3 separate regions of the Homo sapiens genome follow, and regions 1 and 2 are each linked to region 3. Evidence: fine-mapped expression QTL. A gene starts in region 3. Each other region holds a variant in brackets. All regions are shown on one strand. Distances are from middle to middle.

Region 1 (10,008 bases), 23 kb after region 3:
TTAGTGGCCGCCGGGCGCTGTCACCCCACGCAGGGTGCGTCGTCATCCGCGGCTACCATCCGTCCTTCGGGGGTGTGCAGCGCGTTGGGTGTGAGGCACCCCCTGCACTCAGATCCTATCTGAATTTCCCAATCTTGGCCCCATCACCCAGGAGGATTCGGGCCCACAGACTTCTCCCAGGGCAGCGGACACGAGGAAAGCAGGTGGACCCATCCTCACGAGTGCCGGGTGCCCTCCAGCCCGGGGCATGGGCTCCTGTGGGGCCGGCCTCTGCTGGAGGTTCCCGGCACCCGCGGGGCAGAGCAGGTGCATGCAGATCGGCTTCCTCAGATGCCGTGGGGTGTCTGGGGAGAGCCCCGTCTGCACCGGGCAGAGGGCGGGGGGGGAGCTGGGGTTAGGTGCCTGTGGGGCGCACGGAGCCTGGTGTACCCGGGGGTCTCCGCTGAAGCCCCCCCCACTGCATGGCCGGGGGCTCCTGACTCGAGGCTCCGTCCACCCTCCCTCCGGGGTCCCTGGGCTGAGCCTCCGTGAACGTCCGGCTTTCCCTTGCAGATCCCGACTGGGCCTCCTACACTCTGGGCGTCTTCATCTGCCTGAGCTGCTCGGGAATCCACCGGAATATCCCCCAGGTCAGCAAGGTGAAGTCCGTCCGCCTGGACGCCTGGGAGGAGGCCCAAGTGGAGGTACGGAGGGGGAGGGGCGGGGGGACCCGCGCAGTCCCCGGGTGGCCTCAGCCCGGGCCTCTGGAGCCAGAGATGCCGGGCGGCCTGGCTGTGGCCCCTGGAGCCTTGGGCTACTCTGGGGGCCTGGCTGGCTGGACCCGAGGACCCCGCCCCCTCTCCAGCGGCTCCGCCTGTGTGGCTGCTCCACCCACCCCGTGCCGGGTCCAACCTCTCTGTGAGCAGCTCCAGGTGTGTGTGGTGGGCCAGGGAGCGAAGGCGGGTCGCCGATTCCCGTGCCCTGGGAGCTCCGGAGTGCTCCCCTCAAATCCCCACACCTGGAGCACTGGGCTCAGGGTAAAAGAGACCCTGTCTCTAAGGAAACAGAATGCAGCGTCCCAGGCCGCGCGGCACGACCCAGAGTCAGGGTCGCATTTACACGGCAGTCCACGTGCACCCCGGCCCGCTGCCGTGTAGGGCACCATTACCTGTCCCCTGGGCGGCCTCTGAGGTGACACAGCCACTGCCCACCTCTCACCCATGCATCTGATGAGGCTTCACGGAGCACTTGGCATGGCCAGGCAGGGACACCAGCCACAGATGCTTCGTGGGGCCCTAGAGACGCCCCTATGGGGAGGGAGACGGGTGTGAGCCAACCAGGAAGCCCTGGCGTGCAGGGAGGGGCCACGCATGCTGGAGGCGGCAGGAAGGGCCCCGTAGGGAGACCCCGAGGGAGGTGGAGAAGGAACAAGACCCCGGCTGGGGGCTGCAGGTCGGATGGAGCGTGGGGCCTGAAGACCCGGTGGGAGGGTCACCCCAGCCCCACTCGTGGGACTTGGGGTCTGGAAGCCATTGATCTTCCTGACTGCTGTGAGTGGGACCGAAGGGCCGCATGGAGGTGAGAGTGGTGGTCTGGGGGCTGCTGTGGGGATGGGGAGGGTCGTAGAGGCTGGTGGCCTCCTGTACATGTCTCTCCCCTCTCCAGCACCATTGACCCTGGGCCCCCCCTCTCCAACACCACTGACTCTGGCACCCCCTCTCCAGGACCACTGATCCCAGCCCCTGGTTCTCCAGCACCACTGACCCCGGCTCCCGGCTCTCCAGCACCACTGACCCCAGTCCCCGGCTCTCCAGCACCACTGACCCCGGTCCCCGGCTCTGCACCACCACTGACCCCGGCCCCCGGCTCTCCAGCACCACTGACCCCGGCCCCCGGCTCTCCAGCACCACTGACCCCGGTCCCCGGCTCTGCACCACCACTGACCCCGGCCCCCGGCTCTCCAGCACCACTGACCCCGGCTCCCGGCTCTCCAGCACCACTGACCCCAGTCCCCGGCTCTCCAGCACCACTGACCCCGGTCCCCGGCTCTGCACCACCACTGACCCCGGCCCCCGGCTCTCCAGCACCACTGACCCCGGCCCCCGGCTCTCCAGCACCACTGACCCCGGTCCCCGGCTCTGCACCACCACTGACCCCGGCCCCCGGCTCTCCAGCACCACTGACCCCGGTCCCCGGCTCTCCAGCACCACTGACCCCGGTCCCCGGCTCTGCACCACCACTGACCCCGGTCCCCGGCTCTGCACCACCACTGACCCCGGCCCCCGGCTCTCCAGCACCACTGACCCCGGTCCCCGGCTCTCCAGCACCACTGACCCCGGTCCCCGGCTCTGCACCACCACTGACCCCGGCCCCCGGCTCTCCAGCACCACTGACCCCGGCCCCCGGCTCTCCAGCACCACTGACCCCGGCCCCCGGCTCTCCAGCACCACTGACCCCGGTCCCCGGCTCTCCAGCACCACTGACCCCGGTCCCCGGCTCTGCACCACCACTGACCCCGGCCCCCGGCTCTCCAGCACCACTGACCCCGGCCCCCGGCCCCCGGCTCTCCAGCACCACTGACCCCGGCCCCCGGCTCTCCAGCACCACTGACCCCTGCCCCTGGTTGGGAGTAGCTCATTTGCTTCTAACAGGCAGCCTTGGTGCATGGGTCACACCTGGAGGCTTGTTAGAAATCACAGCTGGGATCCCAGTGCCTCGACCAGGTGTGGGGGTGGTGCCTGTAATCCCAGCCACTCAGGAGGCTGAGGCAGGAGGATTGTTTGAGCCCAGGAATTCTTTTTTTTTTTTGAGACGGAGTCTGGCTTCGTCGCCCAGGCTGGAGTGCAGTAGCATGATCTCGGCTCACTGCAAGCTCCACCTCCCGGGCTCAAGCAATTCTCCTGCCTCAGCCTCCCGAGTGGCTGGGATTGCAGGTGCACGCCACCACGCCCGGCTAATTTTCGTATTTTTAGTAGAGAAGGGTTTCACCATGTTGGCAAGGCTGGTCTTGAACTCCTGACCGCAGGTGATCCACCCACCTCAGCCTCCCGAAGTGCTGGGATGACAGGCGTGAGCCACCATGCCTGGCTGAGCCAAGGAATTCGAGGCTGCAGTGAGTTGTGATTGCACCTTTGTGCTCCAGCCTGGGAGACAGAAAAAGACCCAAGGACAGCAGAGTCCCTGACCCACCCAGGGCGACCCCAAATCAGCTTCTGCACTTAATGCCGTGATCCCCCACACCCTGAGTTGAGGGCGTCCCTGCGAATCCCCTCAGGACCCCGGCCCACCTTGGGCTCACCGCCTTCGACCCACCTTCACTGACCTGGGTGGGGGACACTGGGATGTGATATCCGTCCCTTCGCCCTTCGACCCACCTTCACTGACCCAGGGGGGGACACTGGGATGTGACATCCATCCCTTCGCCAGGCTGTGGGCTTGTCTGAGCCTCCGTTTCCTTCCCTAAAAAATGGGCAGGGTGGCCCCTGGACCATCCCCCTCCCCGGACAACAGGGGACCAATGTCAGAAAGATGATGGGACGGGTGTCCCGTCTCCAAGTTGCTCTGCCATCACTCCTGGAGGAAACAGCCCTGAGTCCCTGGAGGGCCTCCAGGGGCACAGACTCCTTGGCTCGGGGAGAAGACGTGGCTATTGTCCCCATAATTCCAGGGCAAACGGGGCAAGGGCCCAGGGGTGGGGCGTTCACTGTTGTTGGAAAAACCCTAAATGTAATCAGCGGGAGAGGACAGGGGCCAACTTGGTGCTGTCCTGATCTGCCTGGGGTGATGGCCGGAGAGGAAGGCTGGAGAGGAAGGCTGGGGAGGGCCCACCGTGGGTATTACCAAGAAACCCCTGATTCCTGCCGCAGAGGTCTGGTGCGATGGGGCCTTTGGGAGAGCACTGAGCTGGGGGCCACAAGGAGATTCCATCCCCATTCTGTTGTCTGCACGTTCACTGGTGCGATAAAAACCAAAGATGAATCTCAGGCAGGCCTGGGGGCTTGTCTCCTGAGAGCACCTGCACCCCGGCCCCCAGGCAGGGCTGGGTCTCAGCCCGGCTTCTTGCTGGGGACTCTGTGGGGCGGGAGCTGCACTGGGCCCCCCCTGGCTCCCTGCACTCAGGCCCCTTGGCCATTCCTGGGCTGGTGGTCAGCGGGGACATCCGGGGGCTAAG[C/G]CTGCTCCCACCCCTAAGGGAGAAACGGGCCTGAGGTGGCCGTTGCTGAGGACCGGACCGAGGTTGAAGGGCCAGGAACCAAAGATTCTTCTCTTCTTTCCTTTTCTTCACATTTTATGTTTTTTTTTTTTTTTCTCCCTACTTTCTATTCCTTGATAATACCTTTTAAAACAACTGCTTCCTAGAGATGCCGTTCACAGCCATACATTTCACCGTGTAAAGGGCACAGTTGAAGGTTTTTTAGTAAATTCAGAGTTGTGCAACCTTCGCTGAAGCCAATATTAGGACATTTTCATCACCCCAGAAAGGAAGTCCGTGCCTTTTGGCTCTTACCCCCGCCCAGCCCAAAGCAGCTGCAAATCCACTTTCTCTCTGTGTAGATTTGTGGGTTCTGGACTTTTAAAAACGGGATCGCACGGCGTGTGAGCTTCGGCGTCCGACTCCTTTCCCGCGGTGCCAGGTCCCCGAGGCCCATCACGCTGCAGCCTGTGTGACAGCTTCGTTCCTTTCAAGGCCGGAGAACATGCCTTGTGTGGATGGAACACGTTTGCTTTATTCATTCACCCTCTGATGGACACGTGGGTCGTCTCTACCTTATTTAATGTATTTCGACAATTTAGTGACACATTCAGCAGTTTCCAAGGACAGTCACAGAAGGGAGCTGTCTCCTTCCCTGTCTCCCACCTTTGAGCACCGTCCCCACCCTGGCCAGGCAGCCAGGGGTCTGTGTGGGCCTCGCTCCCTCCCTCCCTCCTTCCTTCCCTCCTGTCTTCCTTTCTTCCGTCCCTCCCTCTGTCTCTCCGTCCCTCCGTCCTTCCTTCCGTCCTTCCTTCCCTCCTGCCTTCCTTTCTTCCCTCCCTCCCTCCCTCAGTCCCTCCGTCCCTCCCTACCCTCCTTCCTTCCTTCCTTTCTCTTTTTTTTTTTTTTTGAGACACAGTCTGACTCTGTCGCCCAGGCTGGAATGCAGTGGCACTATCATAGCTCACTAAAGCCTTGAACTTTCAGGCTCAAGTGATCCTCTTGCCTCAGCCTCCCAAGGAGTAGCTAGGACCACAGGCATACACCACCGTGCCTGGCTACTTTTTTTTTTTTAGAGACAGTCTCACTGTCTCCCAGGCTGGAGTACAGTGGTGTGATCTCACCTCACTGCAACCTCCACCTCCCACATTCAAGCGATTCTCCTGCTTCAGCCTCCCGAGTAGCTGGGATCACAGGTGTGTGCCACCATGCCCAGCTAATTTTTGTATTTTTAATAGAGACGGGGTTTTGCCATGTTGGCCAGGCTGGCCTTGAACTCTTGGCCTCAGGTGATCCATCCCCCTCGGCCTCCCAAAGTTCTGGGATTACAGACGTGAGCCACCGCGCCAGCCCTGGCTAATTAAAAAAAAAAATTTTGTAGTGATGGGGTCTTGCTATGTTGGCCAGGCTGGTCTCAAACTCCTGACCTCGTGATCCGCCCGCCTTGGCCTCCCAAAGTGCTGGGATTACAGGTGTGAGCCACCGCGCCCGGCCCTGTGTTTTCTTGCCTGTGAACTCTCTTCACACCTTTGCCTGCCTTTCTGCTGCAATGTTAGCTGTTTTCATCTTCTAGGGGTTGCTGGTATGTTAGAGAAATTAATCTGAGATACCAAAAACATTTTTTTCTAGGTTGTCTTTCGAATTTGCTCATGGTGGTTTTTGCCGTGGAAATTTTTACTTCGACATAGTCAAAGTGGTCAGCGTTTTATTTTGTGGTTTTAGGGTCTATAGCATACATAAATAGGCCTTCTCTGCCTGAGGGTTTTTTTTTTTTTTTTTTTTTTTTTTGAGACAGTCTTGCTCTGTCACCCAGGCTGGAGGGCAGTGGCTCAATCACAGCTCAGTGCAGCCTCAAGCTCCTGGGCTCAAACGATCCTCTCACCTCAGCCTCCTGAGTAGATGGAACTACAGACGTGCACCACCACGCCTGGCTAATTTTTGTATTTTTTGTAGAGACGGGGGTCTCACTATGTTGCCCAGGCTGGTCTTGAACTCCTGGCCTCAAGTGATCCTCCCGCCTCAGTCTCCCAAGCGCTGGGATTACAGGCTTCAGCCACCACACCCAACCCTGAAGGTTATTTTTTAATAACAGCTTTGTTGAGGTATAATCCACATACAATTCACTCCCGTAAAGCGTACAGTTCAGTAGTTTTAGTGAAGCCACAGGGCTGCACGACCATCACCACTGTCTAACTTCAGGACATTTTAACGTCCCAACACAGCCGGTACTCACCACCCCTCCCATCACCACCGCCCCAGCCGTTACTGAATGTAGACAGAGCTGCTTTGTGTCTCTGTGGATTTGCTTGTTCTGAACATTTCAAACAGATGGAATCATGCAATACGTGGTCTTGTTTTTTTTTTTTTTTTTTTTTGAGACAGGGTGTCACTATGTTGCTCAAGCTGGTCCCGAACTCCCAGGCTCAAGCGATCCTCCCACCTCAGCCTCCCAAAGTGCTGGGATCACAGGTGTGAGCCACCACGTGCGGCCGATTCGTGGTGTTTTGTGTCTGGTTTCCTCCATGGGCACCGTGTGTCCAAGGATCGCCTGGGTTGTAGCGTGTGTCAGAATTGTGTTGCTCTTTTTTTTTTTTTTTTGAGATGGAGTCTCGCTCTGTCAGCCACGCTGGAGTGCTGTGGCACGATCTCTGCTCACTGCAACCTCTGCCTCCCGGGTTCAAGCGATTCTCCTGCCTCAGCCTCCCGAGTAGCTGGGATTACGGGCGTGCACCACCACGCCCGGCTAATTTTTGTATTTTCAGTAGAGACGGGGTCTCACCGTGTTGCCCAGGCTGGTCTTGAACTCCTGACCTCGTGATCTGCCCACCTCTGCCTCCTGAAGTGCTGGGATGACAGGCGTGAGCCCCCGCGCCCGGCCGGCATTCCTCTTTATGGCCGAGGAACCCTCCATGGTGTGGCTCGATCACATTTAGTTTATCTGTGGTTCCGTTCACGGAGCTGGGGCTTGTTCCCGTTCTCAGCTGTCACGAAGAATGTGCTGTGAACACTCATGTGCATGTCTCTGCGTCTTCGCGTCTCTTACGGTGCAGAGGAATCGCTGGACTCTATGGTAACTCTGTGTTTACCGTTTTGAGGAACTGCCAGACTGTTAGTCACCAGAGCCGGAGGTTCCCACCAGCAGCGTGCGGGGGCTCTGATCACTCCACATTCTCTCCAGCTCACTCCCCTGTGCCACTTTGACCTTGCCATCCTAGTGGGGAGAGGTGGTAGCTCATTGAGGTTTTCATCTGCGTTCCCCTGACAGCTAACAGTGTTGAGTGCCTTTGCGTGGCCGAGTGGCCATTTGTGCATCTTCTTTGGAGAAATGTCCGATCAAATCCTTCCCCATTTTTAGGCCGAGGTGGGACGATGGCTTGAGCCCAGGAGTTTGAGACCAGCCCGGGCAACAGAGTGGAACCCCACCTCCATTAAAACAAATTAAAAGTATACATATGCATGTAAAAGTAATTTTAAAAACCCTTACCCATTTTTATTTATTTTTTATTTTTACCTTCCTTTTTTTGCAGAGATAGGGTCTTGCTCTTTTTCCCAAGCTGGAGTGCAGTGGTGTAACCATAGCTCATAGCCTTGACCTCTTGGGCTCAAGGGATCCTCCCGCCTCGGCCTCCCAAAGTGCTGGGATTACAGGTGTGAGCCGCTGTGTCCAGTGGAGACATGGTCTTGTTCTGCCGCCCAGGCTGGAGTTCAGTGGTGCGACCATAGCCCACTGCGACCTCAAACTCCCAGGTTGAGGCCATCTTCCCACCTCGGCCTCCCTAGTAGCTGGGACTACAGGTGTGCGCCATCACACCTGGCTAATTTTTTTTTTTTTTTTTTTGAGAGACAGGGTCTCACTATGTTGCCCAGGCTGGTCTTGAACTCCTGGGCTCAAGGGGTCCTCCCACCTCAGCTTCCCAAAGTGCTGGGACTACAGATGTGAGCCCCTGTCCCCGGCTGGCCCTTGTTAATTTTTTCAACTTTAGAACCATTTCTAGGTAAAAAAATATAATAAATTCTGTTGCTGTTTTTTGGCAATTATTATAAAAAACATGTAGACTCCCATAAGGAGACATTTTTCTACCTCCCTGTGTCTCGGGTCGAGGCTCTCGTCCTCGGGAGCACACGCCAGTTTTCCCTTGGAGACCTGGGACATTTCTCATCCAGCCACTCAGGTGATTTGTCCTGTTGCTGTTGGTGACAGGATCTCTCCTTGTATTTGAGTTTTCTATGGAAAAGCCATTGGTTTTCGAATTTTAAATTGGTGCCAGCCTCTTGTTGCTTGTGATTTCTCCAGCTGCTCTTCTGGGCCCTCCCTGTTTACTGCCATGTGATCCTCGGAGCAGGGTGATGTCAGGGGACTTCAGTCTGGCTGGGCCTGGCTGCGGCCTCAGGCGAGTGGTGTTCAGGAGCTTGAAGGTGCAAACAGCAGCTGCCTTGGGGGCTTACAGCATAGCAAGCAGAACCTCTCCCATGCCCTCGGGGCTGGCGTGGGGTGTGGCGGCCCCTCCTGCTGCTCAAGGCTCACCATACCTGGCTGGCGGCAGGGTCATTGCCAGCGTCCACCCTCAGGGCCTTTGCGCCTGCCAGGAGCACAGTGTGCGTGACAGCCTCCTGGAGCACGAGCCTCCTGGAACGACAGCCTCCTGCAGCACCTCCCCTCCTTCACGGCGCCGTTTCCTTCTCCCTCAGCCTGTTTCGTAAACATGTTCTGGGTCCCTGCAGTGTGTCCCTGCAGAGTCCCCTCAGAGACTCTGTCCTAGCCACATCTGGGTCTCTCGCTCACCAGCCCATCTCCAGGCCCCCGTGTCTGGCGCCTGTTGGCTCTTTGCTAAATGTGAGCTGGGGAGCTGGGTGAACGAGGAAGCCCTCGCTCTCTGGGGCAGAGATGGGGGTCACAGGATGCAGCCAGCTCTCTCCCACGGGACACCCGGTGTGGGTGGACTTGGGGGTTGAAACGGTGGGGCAAACCTCAGACCCATCCTCAAAAGGGGCCTGGCCCCTGGGCCCCCTTTGCCGGGACCCCGTCGTTAGGGACGCTGGCTCCTTCCCTGTCCCAGGGGAGGGTCGATCACTCAGAAATGGTGTCCCTGGGGCAGGAGGAGGTGGCGTTCCCGTCCTGGTGCTGGTGGAGCCCTCAGAGCCTTGGGTCTGCGGGTCACTGTGGTGACGGCCCCAAGGGCAGCTGGCACCTCCTAGGCTGCCCCTGGGACCCCAGGCCTCTGACCCGGCCCCTCCTCTCTTGCAGTTCATGGCCTCCCACGGGAACGACGCCGCGAGAGCCAGGTTTGAGTCCAAAGTACCCTCCTTCTACTACCGGCCCACGCCCTCCGACTGCCAGTGAGTACAAAGGGGCCTTGTCAGGGCCATGGTCAAGTGCTGGGTGGCTCCGAGATGGCCCCGGGAGGACCCGGCAGGGTGGGGAGTTGGGTGCCGCCCACAGGGTCGGGGAGAAGCCAGCCGCAGCTGCGTCCCCCAGACCCCGAGGTGCCGCCTGTGTCTGCTGGCCACCACCGGGCTTTGGTTCTGGGGCGGGGGGCGCTGGGGTGGGGCTGGGAAGGTCATTGTGCATCAGTAGCTACAGCCCACCCAGGTTCGCTGAGGCCTTGGGGGTCTCGGGTGGATCTGAGGGGCCCTCCCAGGTGCTCCTGGCGGTCTGGGAGGGGAACGGGAGGGGCGGCTGTTGTTTCGGGGCCTGCCCTGGCTCCTCAGGGCGGGAGCGGACGTGGGTACCGGTGGCCGGTTGGGGAAGCCTGAGACCCAGTCCTCTGAGCATCCTGGGATCGGGAGGTTGTGGAGAGAGGGAATGAGGCCTGCTCGGTATCACATCAGCCGCCTTCACC
Region 2 (10,008 bases), 140 kb before region 3:
GAGGGGCTCCGGCTGGGGACATTTCACAGACGGCCCCTCCCCCAGCCCCCACTTTGTTTCCGCTAGAGCTGGGTCAGCTGACTCACCACCTGCCAGAGAGCCAGGAAGGCAGGGGCTGGTCATGTCTGGAGCAAAGGCCTCCAGCCATGGCTTCTTGAGGGCGCACGGCCCAGGCTCCCCAGCTGACGCCGCTTGGTGAGGTGGAGGCTTTTCCTCCCCAGGCTCAGACAGAAGCTCCTGCCGCGGAGATGGGCCGCACGCCTCAGAGCTCAGACCTGTCCCGGGTCTGTGCAGCCTGCGTGTGGCCTGCACCCACAGGTGTGGCTTTGCCTGCCTCTGGTGTCCACTCTCTCCCAGAGAATTGCTCACCAGCCGGACCTGAAGAGCGAGAGTGGCCTGAACACGGCACCCAGCCTCTGTCGGCTCCTGTGGGCTGGCAGCAGCTTCAGGAGGCCTGAGAAGAGGCCTAGTGCCAGCAAACGAGACATGGGGCTCCACTGAGGGCTCATACGGGGCAGGGTGCAGTGGTGGCCGGCTGGACAGGAGAACGCACCTGCTTGAAAAAGGCAAGTGGCATGTATAGCATTTCCACTCAGCACCCTCCACCTGGCAACCTTCATGTAACCCAGAACACAGGCTCTCCCTCCCATTTGGCTTGCGGTGCACAGAACGGGGACGGGGGCTCAGATGTTCCTCTTAAATGAGAAGTGGATTATCCAGTTGTCCATACCCAGGTTCCATAGCTCAGATTGGAACTCCGAACCCACCCTCAGGTGCATCTGCCGCACGGTATTACTCAGGGTTTGCCGTGGTTGAGTCCCCGCCGTCAGGTGCGTCTGCTGCACCGTGGCCTGAATGACGTACCCTTGTCCTCTGGAGTTCTGAGCAAACCGCCTAGTGAGACGTGTCTGCGAACAGCACACAGCAAACGAGACAACAGCTTGTGTCCTCACCTGGCCACATCTGTGCACAGGTCAGACGGCAACGCCCAGGCAGCCTGACCCAGCCCTGGCAACCAAGCTCTGCAGGAGGCGGAGCTGGCATCTCCACTTTCTGAGGGAGTCCAGAGAGACTCAGTCAGTTCAGCTCTAATTTTGACTAACGCTCTTTTCCTCCATTTTTAATTTAAAAGTACATCCAAAGACACTCCAGGTAATGAGTTTCCCACCGTGGAGAAGAAAAGTAAAGCTCGACTTACCAGGCGGTGAGCGAGAAGAGAAAGCTTTAATTAGAAGCTTTACAATAAATGCTGGATGGCGTCTAGGATTCCAGATGGCGGAAACCCTTCCGCTCTTAGGAAATGTTTTGTGGCTGCTAACGAAGTGTGTGTGGAGTGTTGGGCTGGCGTCCCCGTGGCCCACCAGCACAGGGCGGCTGTTAGCCAGCACTGTCCGATGGTGGCCTGTGCTTCAGAGGGACAGAATTGGTCTGCAGAGACCAGCGAGGCTCCGGAAGGGGAGGCCGCTGCAGGAACGCGACAGCGAGGCTCCGGAAGGGGAGGCCGGCTGCAGGAACGCGACAGCGAGGCTCCGGAAGGGGAGGCCGGCTGCAGGAACGCGACAGCGAGGCTCCGGAAGGGGAGGCCGGCTGCAGGAACGCGACAGCGAGGCTCCGGAAGGGGAGGCCGCTGCAAGAACGTGACAGTGAGGCTCTGAAAAGGAAGGCCAGCTGCAGGAACACAGCCCGGCGCTTGAATGGGTACTGTGGTCTCAATGGCAGCTTTACTGAGATGTAATTTACATAGCAGAAATCCACTCTTCTGAAGTGTGTACCTCGGTGATTTTTAGTCACAGACTTGTGCAGCCATCGCCACAATCTAATTTTAGAACGTTTTCTTCACCCCCAGGGAAACTCCATTGCCTGTCAGCAGTGGCTCCCCGTCCCCCGCTCACCCCAGCCCCGGCAGCCGCTTCCCAGCCTTCTGTCCTGTGGACCTGTCTGCCCTGCACGTTTCACATTGGCGGACGCACGCAGTGGACATTGTGCTCGTGTCTGCTTTATCTCACCAAGCGTGGCAGCTCCACTCGTGTCTGCTTTATCTCACCGAGCGTGGCAGCTCCACTCGTGTCTGCTTTATCTCACTGAGCGTGGCAGCTCCACTCGTGTCTGCTTTATCTCACTGAGCGTGGCAGCTCCACTCGTGTCTGCTTTATCTCACCGAGCGTGGCGTCTCCACTCGTGTCTGCTTTATCTCCCTGACTGTGACTTTATCTTCCTGACTGTGGCATTTCCAGGTCCACCATGCTGTGGTGTGGTCCACGCTTTGTTCCTTTTCATGGCAGAGTAATATTCCACTGTTGGATAGATTGATTTCGTTTCTCCGTCTATTGGCTTATGGACATCTGGGTTGTTTCCACGTGTTGATTCTTGTGGACAGTGCTGCTGTGGACATTCACGAACAAATGCTTGCTTGGATGCATGTTTCCGGTTCTTTGAGGTTGATCCATGGGCGTGGAGTGGATAACGTTTGTCCTGTGCATTTGCTGTGCACCCACCCCACTTGCTGTGTGCATCCTGCCGCCACGGAGCCTCTTGGGGGTGACTCGCACAGTCCCGTCTTTTCCCTCTGCACACTCCAGTGTGGGCTTCCTAAGAGGCATTGTTGCCCATCTCGGGAAATGGACTTTGAGGCAGCACTTTTATCTCCCGGGGTATTCCATTCTTGTCGACTGACCCCATAAAATCCTTCACGACGCTCTTTTCCTTCTGGTAGAGCACCCATCTAGGATCCCTGTTGTGTCGAATTGTTACATCTCTTTCCTCCTTCTGAGTTTGGGATGATTGCTCTGCCTTTGTCTTTTGTCACATGGACATTTTTGATGCATCCTGGTTCCCCGTCCTCCCTTCCTGTTTATCTCACATTCCCTCCTGATGAGACTCAGGCTGTGCGTTCCTAGATGACAGCACGAGACGCACCCTTCTCAGGGTGTAGCATCTGGACCGGCCTCCTTGTTGGTGCTGCCCATGTGATCACCCAGCGAGGGGCTGTCCCGTCTCCACTGTGTGGTGACCTTTCCCCGAGCACTAATGAGCCATCCGTGGGGGACAGGTAGGCTCTGCAGTCCCCTGCACCTCACTGCCCCCTGAGATTCGCCCTCCATTTGTGACTCTTACCTGCCCCCGTCTCCCTCTGAAAGGTGCAGAGTGATGCTTTTCCAACTACTTTACCAGCCAGCACTTTATTAGAAACGAGACTCTTCCCATTCATGCATTCTTTCATTTTATTTAAATTATATTAGGTCTGTTTGTTGTTGGAGTAGACTTGCAGACTCCTGCTTTTCATGGTCTATCACGATTGTCTCTTCTTACTCATCTTACTGCTCACGTTGTCCCAGCTTTGGCGAGGACACCGTGTCCTTTGGGTGTCACCCGACGTGCTCTTGGAGCCTTTCTTGTCTCAACCAGAATCACCTGTCCCAGGCTCATCTTGTCTCTCCCTGCCCCGGCCCAAATCAGCCATTTCTCCCGGAGTCCTGGGCCCTTCTGGAGGGTGGCAGTGTTCGGGGCCAGGCCCTGTGCAGGTGGGCTGCAGAGATAGAGCTTGGAACATGTGAGCGTGTGTCTGTGAGTGTTCAAACGTACTCGCGTAGTCTGTGTGCTGCTTCTTACTTTCAATGTCTGGGTTAAGCCTTGTCCTCAGCCCTGACCCGTTCCCATGGGCTCCCCTCGCCTGCCCTGTCTCCCGCCTCTGCTGGGAGAGCCCCGGCTTCAGGAGCCTCCTCACATTGCCTCATGTGCCCAGTTCACGGGGTGTCTAGGACGGCTTTGGAATGGCTTCCCACCCCGCCACAGAAACACCCTCCTAAGAAGGTTTCT[T/C]TGTAGTTCTCTCCCCCACCCTGCCCCCCAAGACTGCAGGTGAGTGGGCGCGTGAGCATTAGTGAGCCCACCGCTGCCGCTTCTCACTGAGTGGGAGGTGCGGGGCCTGGGAAGGGCGGGTAAGCCGTGTCACTCTCGTGAGGTCAAGAGTTAATTGTTAAGCACAAAGAACGAGGAGGTCACGTTCAGTGCTAACACGGGGGTTTTTCCCATGCTTGCAGCTATGTACTTTTGAGCTCTTTCTGGGTTTAAAAAGCACTCATGTAGGAGAGTTGGGTTACCAGGAGACAGCAGAGCAGTTAAGACGCCTTGATTTTATCTCACCGTGGGCCTGCCAAAAACAATTACATTTGCCCTGGCTCCCAGGCAAGCGCTTGAGAAGGGCGTGTGTGGCTGCGCCGGCGGCACCCACGGAGTCCCTGCCCGGCCTGCTGGTCTCTGTCCTACAGCTCCCAGCTCTGGGATCTCAGGGTCAGGGACTCCAGGGCCCAGGGTCCAAGGCTGGCTCTACTGCGTGGGGACCTCAGTGTTGCACCTGCCCTTACCGCAGCCCGGTGGCTTGGCTGCTGGGTGCCTGTCGCTCGTGTGACTGGCCTCAGAGCAGTGCCGCCGCCAGCTTCACAGGTCAAGAGTCTGCTTCCGGCGGCTAGATGGCGGCGTGTCAGCTCTGTCTGCCCAGAGCCTTGGGCAAGTCCCCAGAAGAGACCTGGCGGAGAGGAGCGGCGTAGTGGGGCGGCGTGACGCTTCCACGCACTCAACAGCGGTGTCTGGTGCGGGCAGGATGGAAGCCGCGTCTGTGGCAGGGAGGGAAGGACGCCACAGTCAGCACTGTTCCCTGTGGTGGGTTGACGTGGAGGAATGAGTTGAGTCCCGTCCCTGATTGATGCCTGGGGCTCTGTTCAGACGCAGTTCCCACCCAGATCACCTTAAGGGAGCCCTCCCCGCTGCCGCTGCTGCCGTCCCTGCACTTCCCGCACAGCAGGCTTTAGAGGAGGTTGGGCTGGTGACCTTGGGTGACCCCTCGATGCCCATGGCCCCCAGCCCTGTATGATTTCTGCATGGCGTGCTTTTGCCAGTTAGACGCCAGGGGTTGCCGAGTGCTACAGAGCTTGTGGGCTTTGAGCCAGGAGAGCGTGGCTGAATTCCTGGCTGTGTCACCCACCATTTAAGGCTTCGAGCAGTGACTGACCCTTCTAGTGCCTCCTTGGTGTGGTGGGGACAGCGCTTACCCCACGGGGCTGCTGTGAGGGGTGGGGACCAGACCACGTTCCGTGTGGGTCTCCCCACGTCAGCTCGTCAGAACTGGAAGTCAGAAATGCTGGGTCTCTCGTCTGCGTATTTTAAAGCGTCTGCCCTTGCCCCTGTTGAAGCTATGTGAACGGGACTGTGTGTGGGGAATGCCTGACAGGTAGTTGGGTGCCTGGTGGTAGAGCACCCACCCCGCCTGCTTTCTGGGACTTGGATGGTTTTTCCCCATCAGCAACACTGAGGTCAAAAGGGGAGCTTCATTGAAGCATGCATCTTGTAAAGAGAGTGCCCGGGTGTCGGGGAGGGGGGTTTGGGGGCTGCTGCGTGACTGTCCTGGGTATTGTTGTAAAGACAGCGCCCAGGTGTGGGGGGTGGGGGTTTGGGGGGCTGCTGCCTGGCTGTCCTGGGCATTGAGCGAGTACATCCCTGGGGAGGAGGGCAAGTCTCGTCCCTGGGGCCTGGAAGGAGCTCCAGAGCACGGATGTCAGTGTGATGGCCATGTCCTTTTAGCTGGGGTGACTTGCAGGGCAGGCTCTGGAAGGGCAGAGGGAGGGGTGCGCCGGGCCTGAGTCGTGGCTCAAGCCACGCACGGTGTTCTGCAGGACTGTGCCACACGTGAGCCTGGCTTCTGGCTTGGCCACCCCACAGCAATCTCCACTTCCACGAGACCTGTTAGTGTGTGGGAGCCGCCCTGTTCCCAGGCTTCCCGGTGAGCCATTTATGAGGAAAGCAATCCTGATAGAAGTGGGCACAGAGGCCGCTCCTGCAGGCCACGGTCTGGGCAGCGCTCTGTTCCTGAGGAGCCCAGCACCACGGTGCTGGGGTCATGGAGAATACAGGCCCCACCTGCCTGAGAGACCCAGGCTTCCCACACCCACCGACACACAGCTTCATGTCCCACAGACGGGAGGAGAGAGGTTTTACTGGGCTCACTGTGGTTGTGTTATGTCCCACAGACAGGAGGAGAGAGAGTTTCCTGGGCTCATGTGTGGTTATGTTATGTCCCATGGACGGGAGGAGAGAGTTTCCTGGACTCACTGTGGTTGTGTTATGTCCCACAGACAGGAGGAGAGAGTTTCCTGGACTCAACATGGCTGCGTTCAGTCTTCATTGTGCCGCACCCGTTCACCCCCTGCTCTTTTGCAGATGTTTTCTTTAATTGGCCTTTTCCTTTCAATATGTTTGCATATCAAACTTTATGTTATCACAAATAAAAAACAGTATCATAGCTTTTAAACAGACCAGAACCGCAAACACAGGAAAAGTGAGGGGGTAGTACAGGTGGCTAGTTCCCTTCACCCACACATCCCGACGCCCTGCGCAGGTTTCTGTGAAGACGGAGAAGCAGGCACTGGTTCAGGTGCACCTTGTTAACATCAGGGACAGCTGCTGCCAGGTGGGTGAGGCGGGAAAGGAGGGGAGCAGCGCCAGGATCCAGCCCCGGTGATGGGAGAAGGAGCAGGAACCTTCCCGGCCGGCTGCTCCAGGAGCGCTTGGGTGCCGCAGAGCTCTTGGGCCTCGCACGCGGCCGAGAGCCTTCTAGAAAGGCAGCTTAGGTCGCACAGGCTGCTGGACAAGGCTGAGCCCTGCCTCCTACATTCATGGGAAGCTTGTCATGGCACCCAAGCATGACACAGAAGTGCCCCCACGGCATTTTGGACAGCCTGGAAATGCCAGGTTAGGTCCGGCTGGCCGGACTCAGAGGCTGGCCTTGTGAGAGTTTTCAGGGTGGCAGGGGAGGGCTGTGTTTTCTGTGAGGGGGGAGGGATTCTCCCGAGTGCCCCATGCCCACCCCACGTCCCACCCCACTTGGCAGACCCCCAAGACAGAGCCTCCGGAAGGATCCGCACATGACAGGTTTATTGACAAAGGCTGAACGTCACCAGCCTCATCAGCTTTTCTTACATTTTATGGGAAGGTTTTTACATCATCACCGCAGTTGTCCCCAGCTGTTATTTCTGTAGAAACAAATTCGTCAGCCACAGGTGCTGGAGTATTTCATTGTCCTGGCACCCGACTAACCCACACGGCAGCTCGCACGGTCCCAGTCCACATGAGTGCAATTGCCATGTTGATGTCAACAAGCAGTGACTGAACCACCCCGGAGCAGACGGCGGGCGCTCCACAGAGGGGCCTTCCTGCTGCTCCGGGCCGAGCGCTGCTGCTCCTCGTGGGCCTGGTGAGGCCGCACAGCGCCATTGCTGCCATCCTGGAAGATGGAGGACGCTCAGGCGTGCACCAGAGCAGCATGTTTTCCTTCTCCTCTTTAACTCGGCGGTGCGCTAGCTAGCTCAGACCGTGGGCACAGAGGACACACCGCGACGTCCAGCTCAGACCCACCAGCACCTTGCATCTCCAGCGTCAGTTCCCCCACGGTGGCAGATTTGCTTTAGGGTTCCTGTGTAACTGAGGCGCTTCACCCACAGTGGCCTCTCCGTGTGGCTTTCCTGGTCGACGGTGTCAGAAATGTTTCCTGCAGCGGCAGGCAGGTGCAGCGGCAGGCAGGGTTGGCGGGGAGGAGCTGGGTGACAGGCTGGTCACCGCTGGCCTTTGGACCCTGCGGGGCGAGCGCTTTGGGATTGTAGCAATTCTGTGTGAGGAGTGCAAGGTGACCAGTCGTGAGGTTTCCTAAGCAGCCCCAGGGTGACCAGGCAAGCGTGACCCTCGCGAGGCCCCGAGGAGCCAGAAGCCACATCTGACCGCAGTTTAGAGACATGACGTGGCCGTGCCTTGTGTCCACCCAGGTGTGTGCAGCTCCCGAGTCACACCCTGGCTGGGCCTATGCGGCCAAGGCTGTCTACACGGCACTGCTGAACCTCACATCCGACTGCTCGGTGCTGTCTGGAATGACGGCCTTCAGGGCAGCGTGACAGAAGCGGTTCAGGGCCGGCAAATTTGTTTTCTGCTCAATGTACAGCCTCAGCTTGTCCCTGAAGGTCTCCCCGAGAAAGCTGTAGATGAGGGGGTTTAGGCAGCTGTTGGAGAAGGCGGCGAGGTTGACAATGTGGCCCGTGAGGGGGTGGGCATGGCGGAAAGACTGCTTGCAGGGAGCGGCCCCAGGCTGCGTCCGCTGCAGGAGGTGCACGCTGATGAAGACGTTCTCCGGCAGCCAGCAGACGAAGAAGACCAGCACCACCGCGAGGATCATGCGGAGCGCCTTCTGCCGCCGGGGCCGCAGCCCACGGTGCCGGTGCGCCCTGACCAGCACCCGGACAATGAGGGAGTAGCACAGGCCGATGATGGCGAAGGGCACGATGAAGCCCAGCGTGACCTCGAGCCACTGCACCTCCCGGACATCCGCGAAACAGAAGCAGGCCTCGTCGGTGTGCTGCAGGTGCACGGCGGTGAAGGGCACCAGCGTGGCTGACACGGATGCCATCCAGATGAGGCCACAGCTCAGCCGGGCGTGGTGCTTGGTGCGGAACAGGCTGCAGCGCATGGCCCTGGCCAGGGCGATGTAGCGGTCGAAGCTCATCCAGGTGAGGAAGAAGACGCTGCTGTACATGTTGACCTGCAGGAAGAGCGACATGAAGGTGCACAGGACGGCGATGTCGTAGTACCGCTCGTGCAGGTTGAACACCTCAATGAGGGAGTCGGCCACCAGGATGAGGTCCGCCACCGCCAGGTTGATGAAGTACAGGTCGGGGATGGTCATCTTCTCGCGGAAGCTGATGTTCACCACCAGGATCAGGATGTTGCCCACAAAGCCGATGGGGAAGAGGAAGATGGTGTAGAGGCACGAGAGGAACAGGCCGATCACGTACTGCTGGTGCTCCGAGAGCTCACCTGTCCCATTGGCCAGGGCGGTGCCCAGGAGCGGGTGGGACAGGTTGAGCTCGGGGGAGGTGGTGTTGGGGGCCGCAGGCTGCGCGGTGCCTGGGTACATCTCCAGGCCCACGCCCCGGGCTTGGGAAGTCACATCCATGTCTCTGCACCGTGCAGCTTTCAAGATTTGCCGAAAGGCTCCCAGAGCTCTGTTTTAAATGGTGAATCCATCTTTAGAAAGAAGCGTGATTCTCCTTGAAGTGAGCCTGGCATTTGTCAGACAGGAAACTCCCCAGGAGGAGCACCTGTGGTGGTTTGGGTTGGGTTTGTTAACTGCAGAGAGTGGGAAGAACAGATGCTCCTCACACCGGCATGGTGCATCCGTGGAGGCGAGGGCCCTCCGCGTGCTCGTCCGGCGGGCGTCCCTGCGGGTGTCGGCCACCGTGCACAGTCCCGCGTGGAGCTGCTCACTCTCTGGGTACCTGGAGAAGCAACAGGAGAGGATGAAGTCTCATCGAGTGGCCCCAGCTTTGGGACAAGGCCTGGCTCCCCTGGCCGGGTGTCTGTAGAGTCTGGGTGTGTCAGGAGCACTGGGGAGGGCCAGAACCTCAGCTTTATGAGCTCGGGAGGTGGCTGTGGTTGAGCTGAGGTGGAAGAGTCGCCTGTGGGAAGTACATGGCCTTCTTTCCTGCAGGTCCCACGGCTGCTCAGCTGCAGCTGGAGGCTGGACGTGAGTCACTCCCACAGGCAGGGGTGTTTTTCCCTTTATAGCCACAGAGCAGGCCCAGGAAGCAATGAAGGTATGGGCACGGCCGCCCCAGGACAACGGCATTTGTGAGGAGAGGGGAAAATGCATTTCAGCAGCTGATGGAGAAGTAAGATAGGAAGGGAAAGCCAGTGTTTCTGAGAGAGAGAGAGTGGGTCCAGAAAGCTGGACATCAGAGCAGAATCTTCTCTTACGATAAAACAGAAGTTCAGCGGTTTCCTCATGCTAGTTCTGTGTTCTAGGTACCAAAAATAAACTTATTTTCGTAATATAGAGTGAAAGGGGTCATTGTTTTGGGAAATAATATGTACGTTTTTATTTCATGTTTTAACAAATTATTGTAAAACCTAATATGTTTTTGCAATGCTGTTTGTAACCTAGGAAGAAACTCCAGGGAGAGAGTCCCTCCCGAG
Region 3 (10,008 bases):
CCTCACCGGCACTGTCTGTCTGTAAATCCTAGCCTCCCTCCACCGGCCCCCCGCCAGGTCTTCACTGCATCCTGGTGTGATTGGCATTTCCCTGACGACTAATGGTGCTGAATATTTCCGGTGCCTGTCGGCGGCTGTGTGTCTTCCTTGGGGACGCATGTGTTCAGATTCTTTGCCCTTTTTTTAATTGGTTCACTTGCCTTTTTATTACTGAGTTGTATGGGTTCTTTATAAGTAACTGTTTCTTGAGGCTGCACCAATTTGGGTGTGAACTTTGTAAACACTACTGCCCGATGGTCGCTGCGGAAAGGGGCCAGGGCTGGTGGGGGGAGAGCACCTCCCGGGGTCCCGCGTCGGGTCTGGGCCTCCTCCCCATGCCAAGTGCGTGATTCCGGCCCCCGAGGACCCTGCTGGTCCCAGGCCTCAAGAGATGGCACCTGGGGAGACCTGGGCCGTGACTGGAGTGGTCAGGCCAACGCCAGCTGCCCAGCGGGGGAGGAAAGGATGGGGGATGGCAGGACCCCTGCCCGGGCGCAGTGCCCAGCTCCATACCTGCCACCAGCCCGTCGGTTATGGGGATGGCTCTCCACGACCCCCTTCTCCACTCCAGACCCCATCTCTGTTTGGAAAACCAAGCAAAAGATATGTTCAAATGCCCCAAAACCCAGTAAGCCAACCTGTGCACCCACCTCCATGGCATGACATCTTGGGGAGGCCCCTGAGGACTCCCTGCTTCCAAAGGGGTTTCCGGGTCTAGCCCCACTCCCAGAAAATTGTGCTGAGACCACCTCTGGTCCTGGGTGGTTCCCCCTCCCCTGCATTTCGGGGCGCAGTGGCTATTTCTGGGGAATCCCCGTGTCTCCTTTAAGCCCCTCCTGAGCAGAGCTCTTTAGGATCCGTATGCTGCTGAACTCCTACTCCAGGTGCCCGAGGGGTGGCAGGGCCCTCACAGCAGTCAGAAGGCCCAGGAGGGTCTGCGCAGGGCCAAAGGCACGTCGCAGAGGACAGGGTGGAGGCCACAGCCAGTGGGCTTCCCTGGAGGGGGCCGGCCACATGGGGGCCCAACATCACGACCCCCATCCCCACAGCTGAGGCAGGTAGAGCCAGGAGCTGCCCACCCCTGCGCTGAGCCTGGATGTTGAAGACCCCTGCTTGGCCTGCAGGGCGGCCTACTGAGCTCACGGCCATCGTGCCAGACGCTGTCCAAGCGCAGATAATTTGACTGAATTAGCCCCGGCCCCTGTGCGGGGTGGAGAGGGAAGTGAACCTCCACAACCTCCCCTCCCCTGAGGCAGCTCCTGGTTGAGCAAGCTCGGCTGACTGTTGGGCAAGATGGTCGCAGAGCAGGGCCCAGCCCGGCCTCAGTCCATTTGCCCCTTCCCTGGGGAGAGCCCCCTTCTGCCTGTGCTGAGAGGCTCACCCCGCAGCTGCAGGCCTGGGAGGAGCCAGCTTCCAATCAAAGTCGCCTGCTGGCCTACCACGCGCAGGCCCCGTGCTCAGGCGACGCTGGAGGAGCTCGCCCTGCTCTCGGGAGCCCCCTGCCCAGGGTCTGCTGTGTGGCCGAGTGGTCACAGGAGGCGGCTGCCTCTGGCTCTGGACTAGGGAGATGCTTGAGGAATGAGTGTCAGGGTCCCTGGTGCAGCCGTGCGGGTCAGTGACAAGGGGCAGGAGGCTCAGCAGAGCTTGTAGGCCACTGGGCATGAGCAGGAGCAGGCACGCCGCCTGTCCAGGCCCCTCGCCAGCCGCTGCTGGCCGGAACAGCCTTTGACCAGCACTGGTCTGGGTCTGGCCCACCCTGAGCTATGCTGTTACCTTCCGGATTCTTCCTGAGTCCTGGGCTCCCCTACTGCCCCGCCCAGCCCTGACCACAGCCAGTCAGGGCAGCAGGATTTCAGGACGGCTGTGCTCTCGGGTCCAGGCAGGTACTTGCGGATCTCGGCCGAGCAGCCTCCTCTTTGGAAGAATCCCCCTCAGCCCCGACATCTCTTAGATCTGAGGGGTTCACCCACCTCTGTCTCATCCTCACGCCCTCCTGCCCCCCGAGCAATGCCACAGTTCCCTTAGCGGGATGGAAGGACAGAGAAGGCAAGACACTCGCCTGCTGGAGCTGCCCCACGGAGGAGGCCCCGGAACAGCAGGCAGTAGATGGCCTTGGCTTGTGCCAGAAGCTCTGGCCTGTTGGGCACCGGCTCCCCTGAGGCCTCCCTGCTGCCTTTTCTATGCCTTGTATGATGGCCTCCCCGTCTTTGGGGACCTTGGGTAACGGCTATGTTAGGGTGTGTTGCTTTGTTATATTGTTTTATGTATATTCCAGTCCTGAGGTGTGTGGCCTCCAGCAAGGGATCGAACCTCCCCGTGCCTCAGTCTTCCCAGCTGAAAATGGGGCTTTAATAAGAAAATACATGTCGGCCGGTCGCGGTGGCTCACGCCCATAATACCAGCACTTTGGGAGGCCTAGGCAGGCGGATCACGAGGTCAGGAGATCGAGAGCATCCTGGCTAACACGGTGAAACCCCGTCTCTACTAAAAATACAAAAAAATTAGCCGGGCGTGGTGGCATGCACCTGTGTCCCAGCTGCTGGGGAGGCTGAGGCAGGAGAATGGTGTGAACCCGGGAGGCGGAGCTTGCAGTGAGCCGAGATCGCACCACTGCACTCCAGCCTGGGTGACAGAGCAAGACTCTGTCTCAAAAAAAAAAAAAAGAAAAAAGAAAATACACGTCAAGCCAGGCGTGGTGGCTCAGGCCTGTAATCCCAGCACTTTCAGAGGCTAAGGCAGGCAGATCACGTGAAGTCAGGTGTTCGAGACCAGCCTGGGCAACATGGTGAAACCCTGTCTCTACCAAAAAATAAAAATATACCTGGGCATGGTGGCACCCATTTGTGGTCCCAGCTACTCAGGAGGCTGAGGCAGGAGAATCACCTGACCCCAGGAAGCAGAGGTTGCAGTGAGCTAAGATCGTGCCACTGCACTCCAGCCTGGGCGATAGACCAAAACCCTGTCTCAAAAAAAAAAAAAAAAAAAGGAAAAAAAGAAAAGAAAAGAAAAGAAAATAGAAAATACAAGTCAGGCTATTTCTCCTAATACCTAGTGCTGAGCTGCTGCTATTAATGTTCGTCTGTCTTTATTAGGCGACATTCTCCAAGCTCATGCTGTGTGGTGGATTCCGAGCCTGGCACAGGGACCCAGAGATGAAAATGCCACCTGTCCCCACCCCAAAGCCTCCCGTCTGAGGGAGGAGAAAGACCCATGTGAACGGTTACAGGGAAAGAGCACGTGATGCCACAGGGCACAGATCCCAGAGACACAGACCAAAACGGGCTGCCGCGTTCTGCTTCAGGTAGACAGAGCTTAAGCAGCTCCATGATTCCACGTCAGCTGGAGCAGGGGGACAGGTGCCTTTGGTGGCACTCTGGTCAGTGCAGCCTCAGTGGAGGCCATTCCACATCCCATACCATTGCCCCAGCGATGCCACTTTGAGAGCAAATCCACACAAAACTCTTGCAAAGATGAGGTTGTGTAGACCATGATTCTGATGCATTCAAAACGCTCTAAATGCCCCTATGCCAGTGACTGGGTGAACAAGTCATGGTTCAGTTGAACTTTTTTTGAGTTTGTTTGTTTGGTTTTTTTTTTTTTTTTTTTTTTTTGAAACGGAGTTTCACTCTTGTTGCCCAGGCTGGAGTGCAATGGCGCAATCTCGGCTCGCTGCAACCTCTGCCTGCCAGGTTCATGCGATTCTCCTGCCTCAGCCTCCCAAGTAGCTGGGATTGCAGGCATGCGCCACCACGCCTGGCTAATTTCTTTGTATTTAGTAGAGACGGGGTTTCACCATGTTGCCCAGGCTGGTCTCAAACTCCTGAGCTCAAGTGATCCACCCGCCAGGGTCTCCCAAAGTGCTGGGATTACAGCCGTTAGCCAAAACCCTGTCTCGATAAATGAATAAATAAATGAAAGGCTACAGGCCTCAGACGTTCGTTCTGGAAGGTGCTGAGGAATTTGTTAACAGTGGTTGCCTGGAAGGCAGTGGGGAGAGGCTTTCCTTTTTCAGTCTGGTATGTTCCAGTTTGTTTTCAGCCGGGTGTACTGCATTAACCCTGCAAGAAGAAAATGGAAAGAATTTGAAAAGATGCTGGGGTGTGCAGAGGAAGGGCACGCGAGTCTGGGAAGAGGTGACATCAAAACCAGGTTTTTTGTTACCTGTCAGCCCCCATGTGAAGTCCCGGCGGGGCCCCTCAGCCTGCCTGAGTGGGAGGGGTGCCCAGAGGGTCCCATCTGTGGGTGGTGGGCGGCTGGGTGGGTCTCAGGGGGAGGCTCCGTCTGGGCCCTGTGTGGCCTCAGTGCCCTGGGACGCTGGCGTTTGTCACCTGCTGGCCGTCCCTCCCAGGCAGGGATGGTGTGAGCGCCCTGGTCCTGGTCCGTAGCACAGGACACGCACACCTGCCTTCCACGAGCACCCCCATGCCCATGGTCTTGGGGGGCTCGGCAGGTGCCCTCTGCGCCCCCCACAGTAGGTGTGCAGGCTCCGTCCCACCGCGCGCGGCGGCACGAGGGTCCCACCCAGGCCGGCCAGGTTTTGGGGCGGCCTCGCGCCCAGGCAGGTGGGACGCTGCGCGCGGATGGGGGGCGGGCGGCGGGCGATTTCCCAGCGGGTCCCCGGGGCGCGCGGGCTGGGGGCGCCGGAGCGGCCGAGGGAGGAGGCCACACGCTCGCCTGCACCGCTGGGGGCCGCCCGCGGGCCTTGCCGGCCAGAGCGCAGCGTGCGCCCCGGGCCCCGCGCCGGCACTCGCTCAGCGACCGCGGCGGAGACACGAGCGGCGGCGGCGGAGCCCAGAGGGCGGCGGGAATGCGGAACCGGCGCGCGGGCTGAGGCCGCCCGGGATGGCGCAGGGGCGGCGGCGGCGGGCGGCCTGCGCGGGGCCCTAGCGAGCCGGGCTGACGCTCCCGGCCCCGGCCCCGGCATCGGCATCGCGGGCGCATCGCGGCCATGGCCAAGGAGCGGCGCAGGGCGGTCCTGGAGCTGCTGCAGCGGCCGGGGAACGCGCGCTGCGCGGACTGCGGCGCCCCGGGTAGGTGTGGGCCGGGTGGGCGCGGGGCCGGGTGGGTCCGGGGTGGGCGCGGGGTGCCGGGCGGGTCCTGGGTGGGCCCCGGGGACCGGGCGGGGGAGCGCGGACGCCGCGGGGGTGGCGGCGCTGAACACCGGGCCGGATCGGCGCTCGGATGGGGCCCGGGCCCGGCTGCACCTGCGGGGACCCGGACGTCTTCCCGGGCCGGGCGCAGCGGGGGGGCCCCCCCCAGGACCCCCGGAAACCCCCCTGCCGCCGCCTCCCCTCCCCCGCCGGGCTGCGTGTCTGACGGTCACCGCGGACCGCCCGCCGCGTTGCGAAAGCTCGGGCTCCGCACAGAAAGAGGAAATCGGGGCTGGCTGCAGGGAGGGAACGGGCCGCCAGCCGGAGGTCTCTGCTGGGCTGTGGGGTCCGCCGGCTCCGGGGCCACCTCGCGGTGACGTCATGCCTCACGCCCTTCCCGCACCGGGGGTCCCTGGGTGTGAGCGGCGCCCCTGCCCCCGGCTCCCTGCACCTGGCTGCTCCGGGGCGGGCGCCAGGACAGGTGAGGCCTGGGAGAGGTGGGGCCGGACGCAGGTCCTGGTCCACCCGCCGCCCGCCCGTTCGTTCTCCCGGCCGGGCATCCCTGACTCGGTTCCCAGGTCTGTGGGATTTCAAGGCACTGGAGTCCAAAGGCGCGGAGTCCCTCCCTTCCAGGCCACTGGTCCTGTCATTGGCTGTGAACGGGGCCCAGTGCCCAGACCAGCCCTGCCCTGCTCGGGAGCTGTCAGCCCCAGGCCGGCTGCGCTGTGGAGAGAGGGCCCCGCCGGAGCAGTCCCGCCACCCCAGGCACACCAGGAATCTGGGGGCCAATAGTCTAAGCCCCTCGGAACAAACCTAAACTCACCGGCGGTGACTGAGGCCCCCAGGGAGGGAGCGGGGGAAGACCTTGCATTTGCCTCCAAGGCCCTGGTTCAATATGCAGCCTCTGGACACCCCGGAAAAAGGGGTGTCCCTGATTCCCTCTGGGATGGAGGGGTCTCTGCCAGCCCCAGGTCGTGGTGGCTGCTGTCCAGCTGCAGCTTGGCTGGAAAGGCCACATCAGGAGCTGGGGTGTCCCAGAGGGGAGATAGCGACAGGCTTTTCTGGAAAGACAGGCAGGACCCACGGCCTTTCCATGGTCTCCTGAGACAGGACGGCCACAGGGCCCGTGCAATGGTGCGGTGGGGGTGGCCCCCTGGGCTGGCTCACCCCAGACTCTCTCCCCACAGACCTTTATTTCCTCCTGTTCAGGAACGCTCCCCAGGAAAGCCAGTGGGAAAGGGCCTGGCCTGGGGTTGCTGTGGCCCACGGGGAGGGGAGCTGGGCTTGCCTCTGAACCTCTGCTCCCTGGCCACACAGCCTGGGAGCAGCTTCTCTGGACTCAGGGCCCCTCTCCAGCCACCCTCTGGGCCTCCCAGCCTGGCAGGAGGAAGAGGGGACTTCCTTGGCCTGCTGGGTCCTTCAGTGGTCCTCCCCTCCCAGTGGGTGCAGGTGTGCCCGGCCCACCTGCTAAGCTTCCAGCCTGGCCCACCCCAGAGCTGTTCTCTGCCGTCCCTATGCCCCACGCTGCCGGGTAGAGGGCCGCACCTCTGCCTTTTCAGAATCTGTCCATGACCTCAGTGACTTGTCTCCTCTGTCGGGTAGCGCCATGGAGGGGGGATGCTGTGAGGGGTCACTCTCATTTCACAGCCAGGGAGACTGATGCCTTGCAAAGGGAGCTGTCTTAGGGGACATGAGCCACACCCGGCCGCTCTGCTTGTCCCCGCTCCCCAGGGCTGTGGCCACAGGGTGGAACAGGCGGTGTCAGGAGGCAGGGGGCTGCCTAGCCCCCCATGACCCCATGGCACATCCTCGAGGGCTCTATGCTTCTTTGCTGATGCCAGCTGCTCTGGGGCCTCCTGTACCTGCTGTGGCCCAGCTGGGTGACAAGGAGCCACTCCAGTGTTGATGGGGGCTGGGGTGGCCGGCACGTTCTGCTGTCCTCAGAACACTGTCCTGTGCACTGGCTCACGGCTGGTGCAGACCTGGACAGCAGGACATCAGACAGTCCCAGACCACCTCTGAACGCCAGGCCTGGGGCTGCTGGGGTGGACTTGAGCAGGCCCCACCCACTGGCCGTGTGAGGGAAGCAGTCTTGGGGTCTCTGCGGCCCCCACAGAAGCTCCTTCCAAACTCTCCCCATGACCTGTCCCAATAGTGGGTTCCCCTGACCTTGAACAGGGGGCCTCGCCCGGCGGCCACCCAGAGAGCCTCTCATCACAGGCCTGGCAGGTGGGCGAGTTGGGGCGTGCCTGGACCCACTGTCCTGCAAGACCTGGGTGGGGGTCTCCATCCTGGGAGGGGGTTTGGGGGAGGGAGGGGTGCCTCCGTACATCCTTGGAGCTGCCTGCCAAATCGCAACAGAGGACAGGGACCGGGCGCGGTGGCTCACGCCTGTCATCCCAGTGCTTTGGGAGGCCGAGGCCGGAGGATCGCTTGAGGCCAGGAGTTGGAAGCTGCAGTGAGTCGTGATCACACTCCAGCCTAGGCCAGAGTGAGACCCTGTCTCAAAAAAAAGAAAAACACACATATTGTCCTCTTTGAGTCTCAGGCCATCTGATGCCCCGGAAGGACTGGGGTGTCTGAGCTCTTTTGTTCTTTTTTATTTTAAGGTCTCGCTCTGTCACCCAGGCTGGAGTGCAGTGGCACAATCTCAACTCACTGCAGCCTCTGCCTCCAGGGCTCAAGCAATCCTCCCACCTCAGCCTCCTGAGTAGCTGGGACTACAGGTCCATGCCACCATGCCCAGCTAATTTTTTTTTTTAAGACAGTCTCTCGATGTCACCCAGGCTACAGTGCAGTGGCACGATCTTTGCTCACTGCAACCTCCAACTCCCAGTTTCAGGAATTTGGCCGGCATGGGTGAGGGTGGGAAGAAGGCTGCTGAGTGTGGGCGGGGGCTGGGCAGACTCCCTTCACTCCCCAGGGCAGCGGCCCAACTAGGTTGGATATTTTTTTTTTTTTTTGAGACGGAGTCTCGCTCTGTCGCCCAGGCTGGACTGCAGTGGTGCGATCTCGGCTCACTGCAAGCTCCCCCTCCCAGGTTCACACCATTCTCCTGCCTCAGCCTCCCGAGTAGCTGGGACTACAGGCACCCGCCACCACGCCCGGCTAATTTTTGTATTTTTAGTAGAGATGGGGTTTCACCATGTTAGCCAGGATGGTCTCCGTCTCCTGACCTCGTGATCCACCCGCCTCGGCCTCCCAAAGTGCTGGGATTCCAGGCATGAGCCACCGCGCCTGGCCGGATTTTTTAAAAATAATAATTTACCTTCTCATCGTTTCGAGTGCACAGTTCCAGGGCCTTGAGCACGTTCACTCACCGTGCCACCGCCACCACCATCATCTCCAGAACCTCCTCATCTTCCCAAACTGAAGCTCTGTCCCCATTCAACAAGGGCTCCAGATTTCCTCTCCCCAGTCCGGGGCACCCACCCTTCTACTTTCTGTTCTTTTCTTGTTTTTTTTTTTTTTTTTTTTTTGAGACGGAGTCTTGCTCTGTTCCCAAGGCTGGAATGCAGTGGCGCCATTTCAGCTCACTGCAACCTCTGCCTCCTGGGTTCAAACGATTCTCCTGCCTCAGTCCCCTGAGTAGCTGGGATTACAGGCGCCTGCCACCACGCCCGGCTAATTTTTGTATTTTTGGTAGAGACAGGGTTTCGCCATGTTGGCCAGGCTGGTCTTGAACTCCTGACCTCAGGTCATCCTCCCAACTTGGCCTCCCAAATGGCTGGGATTACAGGCATGAGCCACCGTGCCTGGCCTCAACTTTCTGTCTCTATGAATCTTATGACTCCAGGGACCTTGTAGAAGTGAAACCATGCGGTATTCATTTTTTTTTTTTTTTTTTTTTGAGGCAGAGTCTCATTCTGTCGCCCAGGCTGGAGTGCAGTGGCACCTTCTCAGCTCACTGCAAGCTCCGCCTCCCAGGCTCATGCCATTCTCCTGCCTCAGCCTCCCGAGTAGCTGGGACTACAGGTGCACGCTGCCATGCCCGGCTAAGTTTTCTGTATTTTTAGTAGAGATGGGGTTTCACCACGTTAGCCAGGACGGTCTCGATCTCCTGACCTTGTGATCCGCCTGCCTCGGCCTCCCGAAGTGCTGGGATTACAGGTGTGAGCCACCATGCCCGGCTGGTATTCATTCTTTTGTGACTGGCCAGTTTCACTCAGTCTAACGTCTCCAGGTTCACAGATGCTGTGGCGAGTGCTGGGATTTCCCTGCATGTGAAGACAGGATCATACCCTGTGTGGATGAACCACATTGCGTGTGCCCGTTTGTCTGCAGGCGGACACTGGGCTGCTCCCACCTCTGGGCCATTGTGAATCGTGCTGTGTGAGCACGAGGGTGCAGATGTCTCTCTGAGACCCTGCTTCAGGTTGTTTGGGTCTGTACCCAGGACTGGAGTTGCTGGGTCCCATGGCGATTCTGTGCTTACCTGGTTGAAGAACTGCTAGACAGGTTTCCCCTACCTGGTTTTGCACTCAAGCCACAGGCCAGCAGGTCACACGTGCCCGCTTCCTGCCTGCCTGCCCTGTGGCCGGGTGTGGAGGGCTGGTGTGGGCGATGAGCTGGCACTCAGGGCTGGGAGGAGCTGGAGGCCTTTCCCTCTGTCCTGCGCCTGGTGCCCAGGCCCTGGCCAGGCTCCCCCCAACTTCAGCCTAGACTGGGCCCCCTCTCCAAATGCACCGGAGCTGTGGTGTGGGCCAAGGTTACTGCTTTGTGGACTCCTTGGGCCGCTGCACCGGCCGTGACCGCAGCCAGCTTCCCCGACGCACAGATGCTGTGAGCTAGACCTCAGCTCTGGACATATCTCAGGTTAGGTGTGGCACTGCCCCTGCCCCCAGGCCCTGTGCTCCTAGGCCACTGCCGTTTTAGACTC

What was found. PIP is the estimated chance that this variant, and not a neighbour inherited with it, causes the effect.
Region 1: its variant is the best candidate, but not a certain one, in a credible set for the expression of ADAP1 in whole blood (INTERVAL, PIP 0.77).
Region 2: its variant is the best candidate, but not a certain one, in a credible set for the expression of ADAP1 in whole blood (INTERVAL, PIP 0.65).

The regions. Positions count from the first base shown.
Region 1 is chr7:926,050-936,057 of GRCh38, reverse strand. It overlaps ADAP1 (ArfGAP with dual PH domains 1), which reads left to right. Exons shown (of 11, transcript NM_006869.4): 2 at 553-683; 3 at 9,414-9,505. Among named protein-coding and RNA genes, the nearest start is that of ADAP1, 24 kb to the left of the region's middle. RefSeq lists enhancers at 7,092-7,181, 7,437-8,023. The variant C/G (reference allele first, on the strand shown) is at 4,151.
Region 2 is chr7:1,090,710-1,100,717 of GRCh38, reverse strand. All of the region lies in intron 2 of CHLSN (cholesin), which reads left to right. It overlaps GPER1 (G protein-coupled estrogen receptor 1), which reads right to left. Exons shown (of 2, transcript NM_001098201.3): 2 at 6,908-9,311. The coding sequence starts at 8,989. The coding sequence ends at 7,862. Among named protein-coding and RNA genes, the nearest start is that of GPER1, 7.6 kb to the right of the region's middle. RefSeq lists enhancers at 1-209, 4,516-5,225. The variant T/C (reference allele first, on the strand shown) is at 3,817.
Region 3 is chr7:949,457-959,464 of GRCh38, reverse strand. ADAP1 (ArfGAP with dual PH domains 1) reads left to right here and starts at 4,785. Exons shown (of 11, transcript NM_006869.4): 1 at 4,785-5,069. The coding sequence starts at 4,988. LOC124901569 (a long non-coding RNA gene) reads right to left here and starts at 4,611. Exons shown (of 2, transcript XR_007060178.1): 1 at 4,201-4,611; 2 at 3,975-4,097. RefSeq lists silencers at 1,178-1,237, 4,479-4,578, 4,434-4,589, 4,609-5,098, 5,389-5,598 and enhancers at 3,892-4,501, 5,724-6,335, 9,265-9,909, 9,910-10,008.